Linked DNA regions of Homo sapiens: region 1 is linked to region 2. Evidence: fine-mapped expression QTL. A gene starts in region 2. The other region holds a variant in brackets. All regions are shown on one strand. Distances are between the middles of the regions.

What was found. PIP is the estimated chance that this variant, and not a neighbour inherited with it, causes the effect.
Region 1: its variant is fine-mapped to the expression of RCAN3 in tibial nerve (GTEx, PIP above 0.99).

What each region holds. Positions count from the first base shown.
Region 1 is chr1:24,110,023-24,120,533 of GRCh38, reverse strand. It overlaps MYOM3 (myomesin 3), which reads left to right and starts at 8,399. Exons shown (of 37, transcript NM_152372.4): 1 at 8,399-8,503. It overlaps IL22RA1 (interleukin 22 receptor subunit alpha 1), which reads left to right. Exons shown (of 7, transcript NM_021258.4): 7 at 1-763. RefSeq lists a silencer at 1-95 and an enhancer at 7,689-8,197. The variant C/T (reference allele first, on the strand shown) is at 4,907.
Region 2 is chr1:24,497,672-24,508,182 of GRCh38, reverse strand. It overlaps RCAN3 (RCAN family member 3), which reads right to left and starts at 5,347. Exons shown (of 5, transcript NM_013441.4): 1 at 5,033-5,347. RCAN3AS (RCAN3 antisense RNA) reads left to right here and starts at 5,801. Exons shown (of 2, transcript NR_144360.1): 1 at 5,801-5,835. RefSeq lists silencers at 3,298-3,498, 5,005-5,504, 5,786-5,958 and an enhancer at 6,562-6,661.

The DNA of each region.
Region 1 (10,511 bases), 390 kb after region 2:
GACAGTGCAAGGAGGAAATGCAGGGAAACTCCCGAGGTCCAGAGCCCCACCTCCTAACACCATGGATTCAAAGTGCTCAGGGAATTTGCCTCTCCTTGCCCCATTCCTGGCCAGTTTCACAATCTAGCTCGACAGAGCATGAGGCCCCTGCCTCTTCTGTCATTGTTCAAAGGTGGGAAGAGAGCCTGGAAAAGAACCAGGCCTGGAAAAGAACCAGAAGGAGGCTGGGCAGAACCAGAACAACCTGCACTTCTGCCAAGGCCAGGGCCAGCAGGACGGCAGGACTCTAGGGAGGGGTGTGGCCTGCAGCTCATTCCCAGCCAGGGCAACTGCCTGACGTTGCACGATTTCAGCTTCATTCCTCTGATAGAACAAAGCGAAATGCAGGTCCACCAGGGAGGGAGACACACAAGCCTTTTCTGCAGGCAGGAGTTTCAGACCCTATCCTGAGAATGGGGTTTGAAAGGAAGGTGAGGGCTGTGGCCCCTGGACGGGTACAATAACACACTGTACTGATGTCACAACTTTGCAAGCTCTGCCTTGGGTTCAGCCCATCTGGGCTCAAATTCCAGCCTCACCACTCACAAGCTGTGTGACTTCAAACAAATGAAATCAGTGCCCAGAACCTCGGTTTCCTCATCTGTAATGTGGGGATCATAACACCTACCTCATGGAGTTGTGGTGAAGATGAAATGAAGTCATGTCTTTAAAGTGCTTAATAGTGCCTGGTACATGGGCAGTGCCCAATAAACGGTAGCTATTTCCTGTTGTGATTTTTTTTTTAAACTACGTTACACAAGGAGTGACCCCCTCCCCCAATTCGGATTGGCTTCAGACACACCTGGCATTTTCTCATGGGCTTAAATGACCTGGATTTCCTCAGGACAGGCAAAGCCAGAGGGGTCTGGGGTGGGAAAGAGGAGGGACTGCAGGGCCTTCTAGAGACAAGAGTTCAGAGACAAATGATGTGGAACCTTCTCCCTGAGATCGTAGGCAGAAGCCATTGTGGGTGGCAGTGGTAATCTCAGACGGCCTCTGTCCATCCAGCCTCCCTGATCCCCCACAGAGGCAGTGTTGCACACTCTGTGCTCTCAGACTGCTGCCATACCCTCCGTATCACTGCATCTCAGACGACCCCTACCATGAGGAAGCCAAAGTCCAGAGGGAGAGGGGACCTACCCGAGATCCCACTATTGAGGCTGTGACAGAGTTGGAGTGCAAACCTAGGGCTTTTTGTCCTCATCGAGAGAGGAAGCTTTCCACACCTGCTTGGATTCTTGGAGGATGAGACTAGTGGAGGCTAAGGAGGGGAGGCCTCCTAATGGGGTCCCCAAGAGAAAAGTGCTCCTGGTCACCTTGCTCCAAAGTCTTTTTGTTTGTTTGTTTTGTTTTTCCTTTTGGAGAAAGGGTCTCACCCTGTGGCCTAGGCTGGAGTGCAGTGGCATGAACACAGTTTACTGCAGCCTTGACCTCCTGGACTCAAGTGATCCTCCTACTTCAGCCTCCCGAGTAGCTGGGACTACAGGTGCATGCCACCATGCCCAGATAATTTTTGGTATTTTTGGTAGAGATGGGGTTTCGCCATGTTGCCCAGGCTGGTCTTGAACTCATGGGCTCAAGTGATTGTCTTGCCTCAGCCTCCCAAGTAGTTGGAATTACAGGCGTGAGCCACCACACCTGCCCTCCAAAGCCTTTTCTGAACATTTCTGAGAAAGAGGATGGAACACCAGTCACCTCAGAGGGACCCTTCCCAGAGTGGACAGTGTCCTTCTCTTCCCAGGTACATCTCCTCTTCTCTTCCCCACCCCTCCCCTTTCCTGGGACACAGTGACAGGTGGTGGTGTTCTTATCTGATGGTAATTAATGTTTAACATCTCCTCGGTGTCACTGGTTTAGACCCAACACCTCCGTGCAGAGGGATGGGTCTACCTGGACAGCCCCCCCCAGCCCATTCACCCCTCCACGGCAGCCAAGTCAGCCGGATGACGGCTCCCCTCTCCCCACCCACTGCAAACAAGTCTACTTCCTGTTGCTTGGGTCACACTTGGCCAAAGGTTAACTGTCTTCACCTTGTTTATTGGTGAAAAACAACCTAACAGGTGGACTATTCTCACCAAGTGAGACCCAGGAGCTACAGAAGTTTTTTATTAAGACCAGGCGCAGTGGCTCACGCCTGTAATCCCAGCACTTTTGGAGGCCAAGGTGGGTGGATCACCTGAGGTTGGGAGTTCCAGACCAGTCTGGCCAACATGAGACCCCCTCTCTACTAAAAGTACAAAATTAGCTGGGCATGGTGGCAGGCGCCTGTAATCCCAGCTGCTTGGGAGGCTGAGGCAGGAGGATCACTTGAACCCGGGTGGCGGGGTTTGCAGTGAGCCAAAATCCAGCCATTGCACTCCAGCCTGGGCAACAGAGCGAGACTCCATCTCAAAAAAGAAGTTTTATTAAAAGCCATAAATATCTCTTCCAACTCACAGTAACACGAAGCTCTTTGCCCTCCTCCGGGTGACAAACATTTCAGAAATGATTCTGGGAGGGTGGAGTCTGAGTGTCTGAAGAGAGGGATGGATGGCTTCGAGTCTGTGACTCACCCCTCCTCAGGTTGGACCTGTCTGCACTGAGGGGCGGGGACCAGACTGCATGACCCCTGAGGTCCCATGCCTCCCAGGCAGCCCAGGCCTGCAGATAGAGCTGGAACCAGCCAGAAGGCAGAGCGTCCGCATACCCTGGAGCTGGCTGGGGACCTCATCGTTCCTGAGAGTCCTGGGTCCGATCCCATTTCCAGGAATCTCCACAGCCCCACCCTGCCCAGCAAGAGAGGTGATTCTCCAAGTTTTCACTTGCCTACAAGGTATGGCACAGTCAAGCCCAGGAATAAATGACTAGTAATATAATAGTAGCAGTAGTCAAAGTCATATGAAAGAGAAGAAGTCAACCGTGTTGCTTGGCCGTTATGTACTTGATCATTCATCCTCCTGGTACCCTTCTCTCCATGATAGGTTGTATTATTGATATTTCGCAAAGGAGGAAAATGTGTCTCAGAGAGATTACTTGCCCTAGTTCATGAAAATACTCTGGGAAGCTTACTAAAAATACAGCTTCCCCAAGCCCACCCCAGACCTGCTAAACTCACAGTTTCTAGGAATCTGGTTGTTTGTTTTTGAGACAGAGCCTCACTTTGTTACCCAGGCTGGATTGCAGTAGCATGATCACAGCTCACTGCAGCCTCCACCTCCCTGGCTCAGGTGATCCTCTCACCTCAGCCTCCCAAGTAGCTGGGACTACAAACACCCACCGCCATGCCTGCTAACTTTTGTATTTTTTGTATTTTTGTCAACAGGTTTCACCCTGTTGACCAGGCTAGCCTCAAACTCCTGGACCCAAGTGATCCTCCACCTTGGCCTCCCAAAGTGCTGGGGGGTATCTGCATTTTTCATAAACTTCTTTGGTGATTCCTCTGAAGCAAGTTGAGGGAACAGTGCCGTTACACCATCACTTTCTCTCTCCATAGCCTCAAATCAGCGCCCTAGAGGGACCCCCATTACACCCGCTGTTGCAACAGAGTTGAGGGTGGGGGTACTGCATGGCTGTGATGCCTGCAAACCTCTGACCTCCCAAGCTCCCGACTCTAGGAACATACAGGGCTTGCCTGAGTTTCCACCCAGAGAATTGGACCAGCAGGACTGGAGCTCCTCCAGATTTCCAGACAGCCAGAGCCTCTGTCCCTCCCAAGTCTGAGTGTCAACCTGGACAGGGAGACTATGGCCTGATGTCACCAATGCTTGTCCCCTGTCGCTGTCCCCACCTGCATTCCAGACCATGGGACAGAAACAATAAGCTGAGGCAGGTATTGCCAGAGAGATGGAGGCAGCCCCCACCTCCCCTGCTGGTGCTGACGCTGATGAGACAACTCTGAGACCCCAGAGCTGCTGCTCAGCTCCTTTGGCTACTTGAGCCCATTTTTCCTTCCCACTCTAAGGAGGAAGGGGGAGTAAGGAAGATATGCTTTGGCCAGTCCGTATGAGAAGAACAGCAGTTGCAATTAACTGGACTCCGAGAGCGACAGGGAGGGACGGGAGACTGAAGCAGGTACAGTGTCGCCACACAGGGGGAGAAAGCCACAGGCTTGGTTGCTGTCGGAGAAACAGCATGGAGGTTCAGAGCAGTCAGTTTGTTCTTAATGGTCATAAGTCCAGGGAAGGGAATAAAAGAGAAAAGAAGGCAAGGGGAGAAAGAAGAAAGATAAGCCAGGTACTATAGTAGGTATTTTACACATTTAACCTTATCTGAGTCTCCCAGCCATTCTGCAAGATAGGCAATTGCTATAGTCTGAATGTTGGAGTCCCCCCAAAATTCATATGTTGAAACTTCATGTAATAGTAGCAAGAGGTGAGCCCTTTGGAAGGCCATGAAGGCTATGCCCTCAATAATGGGATCAAGAGGCCAGCATGGTGGTGATTCAAGCCAGTAATCCCAGCACTTTGGGAGGCCAAGGTGGGAAGATCCCTTGAGGCCAGGAGTTTGAGACCAGCCCGGGCATCACAGTGAGACCCTGTCTCTACAAAAAACGCAAAAATTAGCCTGGTGTGGTGGTGCGTGCCTATAGTCCCAGCTACTCAGGAGGCTGAGGTAGGAGGATCACTTAAGCCCAAGAGGTTGAGGCTGCAGTGAGCCATGACTGCACCACTGCACTCCAGTCTGGGCAACAGAGCAAGATCCTGTCTCGGGGAAAAAAATAAAAATGGAATGGGATTAATGCCCTTATAAAAGAGGTTGAAGAGAGTGCCCTAGCCCCTTCCACCACATGAGGACTCCACAAGAGGCACCATCTATGATGCAGAGAGCAGGTCCTCACCAGACACTGAATCTGCTAGCACGTTGATCTTGAACTTCTTGGTCTCCAGAA[C/T]CGTAAGAAATAAACTTTTGTTATTTATAAATGACCCTGTCTAATGTATTTTGTTGTAGCAGCTCAAACGAACTAAGACAGTAACCATTCACTGATTCATTTTTCTTTTTTTTTTTTTTTTTTGAGACGGAGTCTCTCTCTGGTCTCCCAGACTGGAGTGCAGTGGCGCCATCTCAGCTCACTGCAAGCTCTGCCTCCCGGGTTCACCCCATTCTCCTAACTCAGCCTCCTGAGTAGCTGGGACTACAGGAGCCCACCACCACGACCTGCTAATTTTTTGTATTTTTAGTAGAGACAGGGTTTCACCTTGTTAGCCAGGATGGTCTCGATTTCCTGACCTCATGATCCACCTGCCTCGGCCTCCCAAAGTGCTCGGATTACAGGCGTGAGCCACTGCGCCCAGCCCACTGATTCATTTGTAAATAAATGTGAATTGAGGGCCAGGTGTATGCCAAGCACTGTTCTCGGGGGTAGGGATATGGTCAGGCAGGCAAGTTCTCTGCTATCTTGGAATGTGTCCTCCACCTACAGAGAAAGAAACTGAGGCCCAGAAAGGAGGCCAAGGTCCCCCTGTTAGTGACTGAGGCACCAGAGGTTGGGATTTAAACCAAGGCTTGTATAACATCAAGTCATCTAATCTCTCTGCTCAGCCGCATGACCTTAGGCTTGGCCATGTTTACAGAGGTTCCAGTGATGACTGAGTGCTTCACTGGGGTGAGGTCAACAAAGGGATACATGGGAATCCCACCCCCAGAAGCATGGGGTAAGAGAAAGCCATCAGCATTCCTAGAGCTTTCATTTAGCAAACGTCTGTCCGGGGCCAGACGCCGTGCTGGAGGTTTCACGGTTCTTGGTTGAACATTTTCTTTTCTTTTCTTTTCTATTCTTTTTTTTTTTCTTTTCTTTTTGAGACAAAGTTTCACTCCTGTCACCCAGGCTGGAGTGCAATGGCGCCATCTCAGCTCACTGCAACGTCCACCTCCTGGGTTCAAGCAATTCTCCTGCCTCAGCCTCCCAAGCAGCTGGGATTACAGGCGCGCCCCCACCACACCCAGCTAATTTTTGTATTTTTAGTAGAGACGGGGTTTCACCATGTTGGCCAGGCTGGTCACGAACTCCTGACCTCAGGTGATCCACCCGCCTCGGCCTCCCAAAGTGATGGGATTACAGGTGTGAGCCACCATGCCCAGCCTGATTGAACATTTTCAATGAGACAGCTAAGTGGAAATTGTTGTCTTCAACTGTACAGATAATCAAACCACACTGGCTGAGTGCCTTCCCCAAGGTCATCCAGCTAATAAGTGGTGGGACTGAATTGAAAGCCTAAGCCGGTTTGACTCCAGGATGCACCCTGTCTCTCCAGTGCACCTTCATTCATCTCCCCAGATTGCCTTGGGAGGACGGGGCTAGAGGACCTGTTTAAATGACTGTCTCCTGCTCAGTTGGAAGCTCAAAGCCCTCTTTGCTGTTCGTACGGATTCACTCACACTCATCCCTCACAGCAAATGTATGAAGATGAGTCTTGGAAAGCCCTTGTTCGATTGGGTCAATAGAAGATGGGAGAGAAATGTTCTCTCCCAAAAGATGCTGTAAGAGAGAGCCACAGAAGAGCTTAGAAAGGGGTTTTCAAATAGGGCAGGGGATTCAGATTTTGCCTGCAAAGTTCACTTGTGCTCTCTCTCTCCTTCTCTCGAGTGAGGAGTCCCTGAGGCACCAGCAAGAGTGACAGGTGTAGTGTGGGTGGCCACCTGAGGTCGCAGGAAGGGGTGAGGGAGGGAAGCTGTGCTCTCTGGCTAGGGGCCGGTACAGCCTTCCCCTCACCGGCTCATCCTCTGAGACTCGACCCAGGTGCACCTTCCTGATCACCTCCTGTCGTAAGTGCCTGACTTCCCCTGTAGGTTAGGGTCTGGCATAGGGTAGGTGCCAATGAATGTGAGGGGGAAAGAATTGAGACTGAGGGAATGGCAGGAGAGGGCAAAGGGTGGGAAGAGGTGTGGTGCCGAACACCTATTAACCTCAGTAGGGAAGGCACCAGGTTTGAGAGGCCAAAGAAAAGATCCATAGCCAGCAAACGGAACATGGGGGTTTCAGGAGGCGGAGGTTGCAGTGAGCTGAGATCATGCCACTGCACTCCAGCCTGGACAACAAAGTGAGACTCTGACTCAAGAAGGAAAGAAAGAAGGAAAGAAGGAAAGAAAGAAAGAAAGAAAGAGAGAGAGAAGGAAGGAAGGAAGGAAGGAGGGGGGGAGGGAAAGAAGGAAAGAAGGAAGGAAGGAAGGAAAGAGAAAGAAGAAAGAAAGAAAGAAAGAAAGAAAGAAAGAAAGAAAGAAAGAAAGAAAGAAAGAAAGAAAGAAAGAAAGAAAGAAAAAGAAAGGGAGAGAAGGAAGGGAAGGAAGGAAAGGAAGGAACGTGGGGGTTTGTTAGGGGCTTGCCTACAGGAGAGAGAGTCCACTGGTGATGAACTGGACAGGAGAACCGCCTTACATACAGAAATGGTCCAGGGGCGGCGGGCTGGACAACATACCAGTGGCGGCCGACTGGGCAGGAAAACCTCAGCCCCTTGCAAACAGCATGCAGTTTATAGAGCATTTTCACTTTACACCATCCCCTAATGACCTCCACCTGGCAATCTTCATTTAACCCAAAACTCAGGGCCTCAATCCCCTGTATGGCCAGCGTTCCACCAGAAGGGACGGGACGGGGGCTCAGATATTCATCGTAGGTAAGAAACGGGTTGGCTACTCCCCAGATTCCTTAGCTCGGAACACATATTCAGGTCTTCCACACAGGGTCATTCTTGGAGCGTGCTTCAGTTATCCCTGTCAGGTGCGTTTACCCTATAAGAAGGCCCTTCAGGGGACACTCTGGCAGCCTGAGCAGTTTGCACAGTGAAGCAGTAGGTGGCTCCCCAGCTCCTCCTGCCTGCACCACACCACACACACATGACTGTGGTCAGGGCGGGGGCCGTGTAGTAACTACCGGAGTGGTGGAGGGACCAGGAGCCACACATTGCTGTTTTAGCCAGTGACAACTTCTGAGCACGAAACACTCACTTTTAGGTCATATTCCTTCCACCGTCTTCATGAAGTCCAGGTGCCCAGTCTCACTGTCTCCGTTTTTCAGAAGGCAGTCAGTTCAGGGAAGCTGAGCGCCTTCCCCAGGGCACCCAGTCAGCCGGGGCAGAATTCAGATCAGAACTCCCGACAGCTGAGAACGCCGCACGGGATCTGCCCTCCATACGACCATGCCTGAGCCGTTCCCTCCTTTCCATTTTAACAGGGGCTTGGGTTGGGCAGAAAGGACCCAGCTGAGAGGAGGAGCAGTGTGGGGGGACGCGGCGGACAGCTCCACCTGTCGCTGCTGCCCAGCAGGCTGGAGACACGGAATGGCCCCTCCCCTTGGCCCCCTGTCCCCGATGCCATAGTTCTCATCCATTGTCATTGTACTGTCTCAGTGCTGCTATATTTAAGACGGTGCAGTCTCCGGGATCGCATTCTTCTCCCGGTGCCCGCTGAGCCGAGGGCAAGAAGAGAACAAGGACCCTCTCGGCCTCAGGAATCTTCTCCCCAGAGACTCCTAAGTGGGCACACTGCTTCTGTGAGTCACCCCCAGAAATCAGGGTGGGGGAGGGATGCCTCCTAAGAGTCAGCCACTGGGGAGTGATATCTGTGGGTGCATGTGTGTGTGTGTGTGCACGTGTGTGTGTTTGTGTGTATGTGTGTTGTGTGTTGTGAAAGGAGCCTGGGAAATTTGTGCTGAGGCAGCACCCAAGTGAAAATGGGAGGGGATTCCAGAAACCCCTGCCCCATCCCACTGTTCTGTGTGGCCCTGGGTCTTCTGAGAGCTGAGCTGTCTGTGATGTGAAAGTTGCAAAAAAAAAAAAAAGAGTGGGGGCTGCCCTGGGAACTGGAGTCTTTCCTGTGATGGAGCAGCGATAAGCGGGAGCCAGGCTAAGCTGGCAAGTTCCACGAACTTAGAGCGGAGCTGGCTGAGCCCGGCTTGGCCAACCCCACAGGCAGGGAAAGAGAGCGAGCCCTCGGATCCCAAATCTTAGAGCTGGAAGGGATTTCATCCAGTGCCTGACAGGAAACCGAGGCCCAGACGGGAAAGGAGTTGCCTCAGCTCATGACTGGCAAGGGCAGGATTCGGCCTCGCGGAAGCTGGTGGAGCCACTGGCTAAGAACACGTCCCAGCCTGTGCCACCCGCCGCCCGCAGGATGTGTCTCTGCTCCCAGCCACCATCCGCCCCCATCGCAGCTCCTGGAGGGGTCTTGGCTCAACTGCTGTGCATTCCTCTTTCCCTCCTGAAGAAGGGGAGAGGCCTCCTCGGCAGATGGAGGCTTGGGAGGAAAGCAGAGGGGAATAGGGAAGGCCACGCAGTGGGACCTCTGGCCCAGATTTTTGCACCCCAAGAGAGGGAAGCGGGGGCAGTTTCCCCTCCACGCAGGCACACACAGTGTTCCGGGAAGAGGCACCCTGGTCCTTTGGGAAAGGGCAGTGAGGCCGCAAACTTGTCCCTGCTTAATACCACGCATCAGTCAGTGCTTTAAAAAGAATTGGTAGCTCATCCGCTAAAGCCAGGGGTCTGGTTGCTGGAGGCCCCGAGGTCAGGGACGAGCGCCAGGCCCCTGCCTGCTGTGCTAATCGGGAACAGAGCATCCAGGGGAAGGGAGCCAGTGGCTGGTGCCAGGGAATGTTAACTCTCAGCCACTGGAGCCAGGGCCATCGTGTCCCAGGAAAGCTGGGGCAGAGTGGGGGGTCCTTGCTCCACCTAGGGTGGTACCCAGCAGCTCTCCTCCTGGGCCATGAGGAAGAAAGAGCAGAATGAGCAGGGCTAGCCACTTCTTTGGGTGCAAAGAGAACTTCTTCCATCGGGAGGGAGTGATACGAAGCCAAAGAGGGTGACTGTCCCATTATGTCATTTGAGATGATTAGCAGGAGCCCAGGGAGCTTTAGGGGGCAGCCCTTGGTCCCAGCTAACCCTGCAGCCATCCATTCTCTTTTTCCTGATGCCCACAACTGCAGACACCCAAAAGGAGCAAACTTCTAGGAAGTAGAAGGGGTAAAAGCCCACTAAGACTGACCCTCCACAGCCCGAGCCCCAGACACCTCCACCACATGCCCCTTCCAGGCCAACGGCTCTCCAATAAAGCCAGTGGGCTCACCTTCCATGCCATGGACTTAGAGAAATGGTCACCTAGGTGCTGTGTTCACATCCAGGCAGAAGACAGCCTACACATGCACGCACACACACACATACACACACATGCACGCCCACACACACACACGCTGCCACCTCCAGCAGGACCCTCTAGAGAGGCAGGGGCCAGACAGAGCTGACCCCACAGAAGCTGACAGGAGCAGGCCAAGGCAGGCGGTCATCCCTCTTCTGTTTCCATCCCCACGCCTGGGCAGGAACCCTCCCATGCCAGAAGCCTGCAGACCAGGATTCCCACCTGGAGGAGGTGTGAAAGCCATTCCAGGGATTTTAGCTTTAGCATCAGGGGGGCCCTCAGAGACCCAGCAGTGACTGAAGCCCGGATATGAGAAAACTCAGTGCAAAAACCCACAGCCAGCGGGCACACGGGCCTCCCACACCCCTCGT
Region 2 (10,511 bases):
ATACCAAGACTCACTCTCAATCCTGAGTTCTAGTCTTGTATTTTTCACTTTTTCTTTCTTTTTTTTTTGAGACGGAGTTTCACTCTTGTCCAGGCTGGGGTGCAGTGGCGCAGTCTCGGCGCAGTGGCGCGATCTCGGCTCACTGGCGCAATCTCGGCTCACTGGCAACCTCTGCCTCCAGGGTTCAAGCGATTCTCCTGCCTCAGCCTCCCGAGTAGCTGGGACTACAGGCACATGCCATCACACACCTAGCTAACTTTTTGTATTTTTAGCAGAGATGGGGTTTCATCATGTTGGTCAGGCTGGTCTCAAACTCCTGACGTCAGGTGATCCCCCCGTCTTGGCCTCCCAAATTGCAGGCGTGAGCCGCCACCACGCCTAGCCGTATTTTTCACTTTCTATTGAATATATCTATCTGGGTGGCCCACAGGTACAACAACTGTTTTTAACTTACTCATTTATCGTGCCAGAAATCTCCAATCTGGAAAGGGGCCCTGCGGAAGCGGGGCAGGGAGTGACAGTGTATCTCACTGTGGCTTTCATTAATCTTTTCTTCAAGACAAAGTTGTCAGGTGGACTTAGCTCTTACAGTGCTTGGTTCATTTTTCTGTTATACACTTACATTGTGATTATTTGTTTACAAATCACTCCTAGCTACAAGACTGTATCTGTGAAACCCCAGGCCCTGGCATAGTTTCCCGCTCACAGTGTATGCTTAATAAGGGAGGCTGAATAACAGCAGGTAGTATTTTAGTTACCCCACTGATATGTCAGCACAGACAAAGGTAAATTGAATTCTGCATGGGATTAGAGATAGCTTCCCAAGGAGGCAATGGTGAGACTTCAAGGATGAACAGAATTTCAGGAGGAAAAGAATGGGGAGCATTCCACACAAAGCCAGCAGGACATGAACAAAGGCAGGAAGACAGTAGGACCAGCATGCACAAAGGTCACGTGATCTGGCATGGCTAGGGTGCAAGGTGTTTGGTGGGGGTGGCATGAGACAGTCGGAAAGGCAGGTATGGGCCAGGTTGCCAAGCAAGTAGGGTTACAGAGTTTTGACACAAAAACCATGTCAATATCAGCATGCCATTGTGGGTTTTTAGGCAGGGAAATGATAAAACCAAGTGCAATTTAACTTTTAGTATCTCTAAAGGTGGGCTGTCTTTGTATCTTATCTCTTAGAGGCACTAATGTTTCTATCCTATTCCCAACCCATTAAAAAGAGGTAGAGAAAATACTGTGCCCGGGTTTTTGGAGGCTGGTAAGTTGGGGAGCTCTGGCTGACTAGATTTTGAAATTTGAGAAAGTCAACCTATTCTTGATAAGATTTGTTTGTTTCAAGTTCCCTCGTCTAACCCGTAAAAAGATTTTAAAAAACAGAACACAGGAAATAATCCTTCACCTGACTTAAAAAAAAAAAAATTCTTAGAATATCACACCTTCATTTCCTGTTTTCTACCTTCAATTTTGAGTACCTTTTTTTTTTTTTTGATATAACTTCAAACAGAAGTTATAAGAATAGCACAAGGAACTCGGGTATGCTGTATCCTTTACCCAGAGTCACCAATTCCTTCTGTTTTGACCATCTGCTTTATCTTTCTCTATTTTTATAGACATGCATTTTCCTGAGCCATTGAAAGATGGAGCATACCCCTTTTACTTCCAAATACTTCAGTGTATAAGAACAAGATCATTTTCTTATATAACCCATAGGATAATTATCAAAAACAGGAAATTTAACATTGATATAATACTATTATCTAATACATAATTTGTCAAATGCATAATCTGGATTCAAATTTTATCAGTTATCCTAATAATGTCTTAGCTATTTTCCTTCAATTTTTCTTTAGATTATTGTCAAATTATTTGTCGTTTGTCCCAAGATATCTATATTTCTTTCTTTTTCCTTTTTTAGAGACAGGGTCTCTGTCATGCGGGCTAGAGTGCAGTGGTATAATTATAGCTCCACTCCAACTATCACAAGACTAAACTGTTCCTCAGTTTACCAATCCAGGGAACTCTTGACTGGCCCAGCAGAAAGGGCTGAACCGATATCCTCCAGCTCCTGTAAGCAAAAGTCTGTGCTAATCCAGGTTTCCCGTCATCTCCAGCACAACTCTAACTACGGCTGGCTTCTGGCAAATTGTTTCTTCATGGAAATATCAAATGAGTGGAAAAACTCCAAGTAGCATGACCATCTGCTCTGCCACAACAGGCCTGTGACAAAAGTCATCTATCAAGGCAAAATGTCAAGCACATGGCATGGATCTTGCATTTTCTGTTCTGATCAGGAAAACGCAAATTCTTTCTCCTCCAGGATTAAAATAATAATAATTTTTCAAATTAATAGGCTTCCCAACTTGGTGAACATTTCAGTATCTTAGCTAGATGTACTTTTCACTTTTTTTGTATGTTAAAAATGCTACCAAACAATACTGGAAGCAAACAAGTGCTCCATTATCAGCTCTACAAGTGTCCTGCTGTATAACCTTGGGAAAAATCCCTTGGTTTTTCTGTATTTATAAAATGAACAAGATAAAATACATAAAGTGTATAAAATATATAAAATAAACATAGGTGCTTTGGGCTACTAAGTTCCTTTTTTAAATTTCTAAATTAAAAATTTCAACTAAGTTAAACAAAACAAAACACTTGGACTGGTGTGGTGGCTCATGCCTGTAATCCCAGCACTTTGGGAGGCGGAGGCAGGCGGGCTGCCAGAGCTCCAGAGTTCGAGACCAGCCCGGGCAACATGGAAAAACCCCGTCTCTACAAAAAAACACATGGTGCACGCCTGTAGTCCCAGCTACTCAGAAGGCTGTGGTGGGAGGAATACTTGAGCCTGGGAGGCCAAGGCTGCAGTGAGCTGTGTTTGCACCACTGCACTCCAGCCTGGGCAACAGAAGGAGATCTCAAAAAAAAGAAAAAAAAAAAAAAAAAAAAAGAAAAAAGAGAAAAAAAAAAACAAAGCAACAACAAAAAGCCACTTAGGATCGTCAATGCGAAGTTCTGAACGGCTATCACGAAGCCCTACCTTCTATTCTCTACTCATTTACCACTTACAGGTAGAACTGTACTATTTTTTAGTAGCTGTGTGTAAGAAAAATTTCGTGCGACAGTAAAGTAAAACGGGTGAAAATTTGATTTTTGTATTTTGTATGTTTCAATGACCCATGTCTTGTTTTCACAGATAACCTAGAATTGGTCCTGTTATAATTGAAGTTCCACTCCACCAGGAATTTGTCAGCAAGAGACAGATAGAAATAAACAACAAAAACCAGCCTACAAAACATATGAAAACAACAGGTTTTAAAGAATAACTGAAGTTGAGATATATAAGACTGATGCTATTTGTTGTGCTGTGTATAATTTCTTTTCCCTGGATAGAACCTCTACATTCTAGGGGAAAAGTGGAGATTGCTGTCCGACCTCCACCTTCTGTGTTTTTTTTCTAAGTAACAAACGGTGTTGAACTTTAGAGCTTCCATTATTTCACAGGCTTCAGGCTAATGGATTTCCGCGTCACACTATTTTTCATGCTTTAAGTCCTTCAACCAACAACTCTAACACCATATAAAATCTGCTCTTGTCTGTTACCTAATGTTCACATGTTTGAAACCTTTACAAACGTTATATTTCAACAGCAGGAAAAATCTTGTTTCCTAGAAAAGCACTGAAATCTGTTTTCAGGCTAAGAGAGAAAAGGTTTGGCTGGGTGCGGTGGCTCATGCCTGTAATCTCAGCACTTTGGGAGGCAGAGGTGGGCGGATGGCTTGAGCCCAGGAGTTCAAGAACAGCCTGGGCAACATAGTGACACCCAATCTCTACAAAAAATTAGCCGGCATCTGTAGTCCCAGCTACTCAGGACGCTGAGAGGTGGGAGGATCGCTTGATCCTGGGAAGTTGAGGCTGCAGTGAGCTGTGTTTGCACCACTGCACTTCAGCTGGATGACAGAGCGAGGCCTTGTCTCAAAAAGAAGAAAAGAGAAGAGAAGAGAAAAGAAAAGGCAAGGCTTGCCAATGCAGTAAAATGTAAAGCTGATGACCTGGCTAAAGAAGAGACTCAGTTTTCAAGCTTTTCACAGTCTTCCTGGATGGAAAGCCCATTTCTAGATCAATTTAAATCCCCACCAAAAAGAACACATTTGTGTGATGCATATCTGGCTCCTGAATTATGTGTTTACAGAGTTTAAGATATTGAACCAAAGCCAATGAAATAGTCTTAAAACAAATTACTTTACATCGTATGTAATCACAGCTACAGATAAATCAATTGCTTCTTTTGCCAAATAGTACATCAGAGACTTCTATGAAAAGTTCAAATAAATGTGGTGTACTTGGTGGCTTCCAACAAGTGGAAGCGAATATTTTTGGCTTTCAGCACTACAGGAAAACATCACTTTAAATAATCCTTGTTTGTATCTGAAACACGGATCTGGATTGCTTCCTACACTAGAATCCTAATCTCTAAAGGAGATGATCAGATTTTGCACGGAAGCTAGAAGAATCAACCTGGAACAGATCACTCCTGCCCTACCTGTCCAGGCGGCGGACAGAAGCAGACAGACAAGTTTCAAGAAGTTAGGGAGTCACTAATGCGATGGTGATCCACGCACCGTGGGGGAAGCGGGGCAAGGGAGAAAGACAGGGGGCTTCCACCTTCCAGGCGCCCCTACACCGCTCCTGCCTTCACAGGCAGGCTGGGCCTGTCGGCTTTTCAAAAGGTCAAACACACTTGGTGGGAGAAAATCGTTGGTGGAGAAGACAAAACATTTTTGTTTTGTTTTCCGGGACACCACCCTCGAGGCTGCCAGACTAGACCCCGCGCGCGAGAAGGGTGCGGCGGGAGGCGAGGTCGCGGGAGGCGAGGTCGCGCGCGGTAGCATCTCCCGGTCCCGCGGCTCGGAGTGCCCACCCCTCCCGGACTTCTCGGGGCGGCTTTTTTTTTTTTTTTTTTTTTTTTAACTTTTCATGCACCACCCCCCCCACCCGCCCCGCCCCGCCCCGCCCCGCGCTGGGTGCAAACCTGCTGGAGAGGCCGGGCGCCGTGGGGCCTCACCTGCACGCCCCGCCGCCGCAGGACGGGAGCCGGGAGGGCAGCGGACGGGCCCGGGCTGCCCGACGGGGCTGCGGGGAGCCGGACGGCGCGAGCTGCGGGGCCTCTGGGAGCCTGGTGGGCGGCGGGCGGGGCCGAAGGCAGAGCCGGGAGCCGCCTGCAGCAGCAGCCTCGCCGCCACGCCCTCGACGCCGGCGAGAGCGGCCCCCTGGGCTGGGACTAGGGCGGTGTCCCGGCTGAGCTAGGCTGCCGGCGCCGCGCGCCCGCCTCGTCCCCTCCTGTTCTGGCAGGGCGCGCGCACGGCGGCGCAGGCGCCAGAGCCCAGGACAAGGCGGGGACCCGGGCGGGGACCGGGGCGGGGGCGCGCGGGGGCCGGGGTGGGGGTGTCTCGCCGCGCGCGCCCTCCTCCCGCTCCTCCGGGTTCCTGGTCCCCAGCCTGTGGGGGGCTTGGGCTGTAGCGCTGGGGCGGGGGCTTTAGATCACCCCGAAAACAGGACCTCTGGCGACCTTCTCGTTTTCCACCGGGAGCGGAGAGAGCCGATCTCCTTTTCCTGCTAGCCCCGTAGGACAGTCCCCGGAGCAGCTCATAGGAATATGACGAACGTTTACTCAGGGCTGGTTACTATGTACACTGCGCCCCGCGCGCGGCGAGTTTACCTCGGTTCACCTCCCGGCAACCGGCGGCCCGGATATTATCAGATGCTGTGGGCTTCCCGGCGCCTCATTGCCCGAGGAGAGGCGGCCGCAGGTAGCTGAGCTGGAGCTAGCACAAGGTGTGGGACGGCACAGGCTGGGTCCCGCCCTGGCGGGTACAACCCTCTTCCCCTTACCCACTCCTTCCCCTCCCCTCCCATCCCCTCCCCTCCTCTCCTCCCCACTCGTGCTCTTCTCCCTCCTCCCGCTCTCCCTCCTCCTCTTACTCCTCTTCACCCTATGCCCTATCTACCGTTGTCATACAATCCACATGTTTAATGCTTTCTTTTTCGTGTAAAAACCCTTCCACGCAGTCTTGCTTGTCTCCGACGCCTTAGGAGACCATGGGACATGATTACAACTATTACGCAAAGGGAAGAGCCGGGGTCTAAGCTGTTGAGCGAGTTTCAGTGATAGGACCGAGGCTTACATTGGCAGGTATTATTACCACCAATAACAACTATGATGACAAAGCTCCTGAGCCCAACTTGGAAGGCAGCTGGTGTCTCTTCCCTTAGCCGGCAGAGAAGGAAGCAGGGTCACACAGCAGGGAAAATAACTGGGCTCATCTCCCACCTACAAGGACGCGCAGTCACGCAGTGGTGCGCACCCGTAGTCCCAGCTAACTCAGGAGGCAGAGGTGGGAGGATCGGTTGAGGCCAGGAGTCTGAGACCAGCCTGGACAGCATAGCAAGACTCCGTCTCAAAAAAAAAAAAAAAAAGGAATGTGCAGTTAGAAGAAAATCAGCTCTCATTACCCACTCAAGACCTTTCAGAGGCAAAGTGAGGCACAGTGAAGCTTAACATCAAAGGCACTCAGCGCCTGCATCATGGGGCAGGAAGATGGACTAAAATGTGTACAGCACATCTAATCCCTGTTAGATGTAAACTAAGAAATCAGGGTTGGATTATGACCCCAAGGGCTCCCCAGCAGTTGAGCCCAGCATAGTCACCGAGGTATGTCCAGCAGATCGCCCCTCCTACTTCCTGCTTGCTGCTTCTGTGGTTCCTGCTGCCTCCAACCGTGCTGCTCCTGCTCCCCATCTTGTCTTAAACTAAGTTCTTCACTTTCATTCGTTTAACTAATATTGATGGCAAGCTGCTTCTTTTGTCAAGGTCACTCTAAGGACTATAGTAATTATTTTTTCTCTAAATTCCTCTAACACAGCAACTTTTGCAAAAATTGAGGGTTGTTTTTTTTTTTTTTTTTGGTGTTTTTTTGTTTGTTTTGAGATGGGTCTGCTCTGTTGCCTAGGTTGGAGTGCAGTGGCACAATCATAGCCTCAACCATCCAGGCTCAAGTGATCCTCCCATCTCAGCCTCCTGAGTAGTTGGGACTACAGGCACATGCCACCATGCCTGGCTAATTTTTCTACTTTTTGTAGAGACAAGGTTTCACAATGTTGCCCAGGCTGGTCTCAAACTCCTGAACTCAAGCAATCCTCCTGCCTTGGCTTCCCAGAGTGCTGGGATTATAGGCGTGAGCCATTGCACCTGGCCAAAAAATTGAGTTTTCACATCAAATGAGATTGGAAACAGCTGCATTCCATAGCCCTGCCTGGAGATGTCTGATGCACGTTCACACAAAAAAAATGGCCCTGAGAGATCCTAAGTCAAACAACCAGATTAGCTTAATTTAGTTTCCCTGAGGTATTAGGCCCTGTGTGGGTGTTGGGCTTGCAAGGGTAAGGTCCATAGAGATCTGCCACCTGAGGAGCTCACAGATGGGGGAGACAGTGATTGTGATACAGTTGTATTTGTGCACTGAGACATTTGCAAAGTGCTGACAAAGCAGAGGAAGAAGTGAGCAATCCTACATGATGGTTCAGGGAACGGGGTTCGCATTTTCCAGTATTATTCAAGATTCTCTTTTTTTCATGGAATACATCAATCAGACTGGGTTAAGCAGCAAATGGAATGCATTGACTCACATAATAGAAAAGTTTGGGGCTTCAGGCATGGCCGGATTCAGGGGCTTAAACTACGACATTAGGATTAAGTTTTTTCTCTCCATTTTTTTTTTTTTTTTTTGAGACGGAGTCTCGCTCTGTCGCCCAGGCTGGAGTGCAGTGGCGCGATCTCGGCTCACTGCAAGCTCCACCTCCCAGGTTCATGCTATTCTCCTGCTTCAGGCTCCCGAGTAGCTGGGACTACAGGCGCCCGCCACCACGCCCGGCTAATTTTTTGTATTTTTAGTAGAGATGGGGTTTCATCGTGTTAGCCAGGATGGTCTCGATCTCCTGACCTCGTGATCTGCCCACCTCGGCCTCCCAAAGTGCTGGGATTACAGGCGTGAGCCACCGCACCCGGCCTCCATTTCTTGACTCTATTTCCTGTTGACTTTGCGTTCTTAGGCTTCCTTTTCCCCATGAGATGGCAGAATGGCTGCTTACAATTTCAGATCACACCCTTTCCAGCAGAAAGGGAGTTTCTTTTCCCTGATGCTGTCAACAAAAGTCCCAGGACTACATCCCATTGGTCTAACTTGTGTTACCCGTGCATCACTAAACCACTCTCCTGAGAAGGGGCATGGAACATTCTGACAGCTCCTCACAAATCGCGTGGACTGAGATTTGGGGAGAGGTGGCTTCCTGTGCTAGATCATTTCTGTTGGCCCTTCCAGACCTACTCTCCACCCTTTTCCTTCCTGATTTGAACCTCAAGAGGCCAACCTGCATGGACTGCTTCCACAGATCCCTTGTCCTCTGACTTACAGTTGAATTCACCAAATAGAAGACATTGGAAATGAGACCCGAGGGTTGGAGGAGGAGGAAGGTAAGGGTATTATTCCTCTGGCCCCTGCCCTTCTGGGTCGCTGCAGGTTGGCTACATGTATTTATTGAAGCTTCTGTCAACTGGCCTTCTTCACACAGCTACTCTCTCCTAGTTCTAGTAAATTCTCCCTTCTCCACCTCCAGAATTATCCACCCTGGAGGTGATAATGGCTCCCCTCTGTTGCCTGCCACAGTGTATCACACCATCAGCCCTGCTTTTTCCCTCAACCCTGCCCACACATCTGTATGTAACCTTTACTAAACCCCCTTTAGATTAATCATCTGCTGGGATGCTGATGGTTACATTCAACAAAGGAGATTCAAGTCTCTATTACCAAAAGAAAGGGGAATGAATCAAGGGCAGGCAACAGCACTATGGTACTGATATTGGTTTGGAAGAAGTATCACCATAGTGCAGACCACAGATGACTGTGGCTTGGACAGGGTCGTGATGGGGGAAGCAATGAGAAATGGTAGGATTCTGGCTATATCTCAGAGGCAATGTTAACACAGTTTACTGAGGAATTGTATGTAAATCATGAGCAGTAGAGAGGAGCTGAGGGTGGAAGTAGTTGGAAAACATGCATCTGGAGCCTAGGAGTGAGCTCAATGAGTAGTGATTTGGGAGGGAGGCGCGTTAGTTAGTTGAAACCACGGGCTCAGATGAAATGACCCGGGGAGCCCACGTAGAATAGAACACAGAAAGGGCAAAAGGCAGAATCTAGAAGAACAAACACCAGCCTTTCCATGGTGAACAGAGGAAGAGTTGCCATCTTGTATCTATCGTCTAGATCGTGGGCAACTCGATAACTTGAGCGCAAGAACAGAATCTTCCACATCCTTCCTTTTTACCATCGTGTCTAGCGAGGTGATGACCACACGGTGGGTAATCAATGCTTGTTATGAATGAACTTGACAGTTCCACATTTCTAACACTCCCTCCCTCTCCTTCTCATGTGAGGTTTGAGTTACAGGCCGAGAAAAAGAGAAATTGATCCCTGTGGCTCAATCCGTTGAAACCTATGCCCAGGGTGCTAAGCATTTCGCTGCCCTGGAAAACTTCAGTAGAACCTCTCAGACAATGCCACAGATCCCGAGTAGCACACCTCTTGCCTTTTAGGAGAATTTCCAGACCAGCGATTTCATTTCAGATTTTCTTATTCCAGATTTTCTTATTCTTATTTGAGTAGATTTAACAGTAAATATCCTAACAAATCCTTATTAGGTTTGTTTTGGGTTTGTGCTATGAAAATGATACAAGTGGCAAAAGATCTCCATCTCACATGCATACATTAGTAGTGGAATGTAAAAGGATGCAACTGATTTTTGGAAACTGCCAGTTTATCAAGCTAAACGTACACCTACCCTATGACCCAGAAATTCCACTCCTAGATGCAGACTCAAGAGAAATGTAGGGAAATGTCTACCAAAAAAGAGGCTGGTACAAGAATGCTCTTAACATCTTGGCCGGGTGAGGTGGCTCACGCCTCTAATCCCAGCAATTTGGAGGCCAAGGTGGGTGGATCAGTTGGGGTTAGGGTTTGAGACCAGCCTGGGCAACATAATGAAACCCTGTCTCTACTAAAAATACAAAAATTAGCCAGGTGTGGTGACGGGTGCCTGTAATCCCAGTGACTTGGGAGGCTGAGGTGGGAGAATGGCTTGAACCCGAGAGACAGAGGTTGCAGTGAGCCGAGATTGTGTCACTGCATTCAAGCCTGAGCAAAAGAGACTCCCATCTCAAAAAAACAAAAACAAATCAACAACACAAAATATTTAATCATACTATTCTCCAACTGTAAATATCCCAAATGTCCACAAGAGGAATGGATAAGAAAACCATGGTATATTCAAACAATATAATACTACACAGCAATAAAAAAAAATCATGAAATGTTGATACACATAACAACGGATAAATCTCAAAAGCAATTGTTGAGCAAAAGAAGTCAAAACGCATAGATGTATGATTTCATTTATAT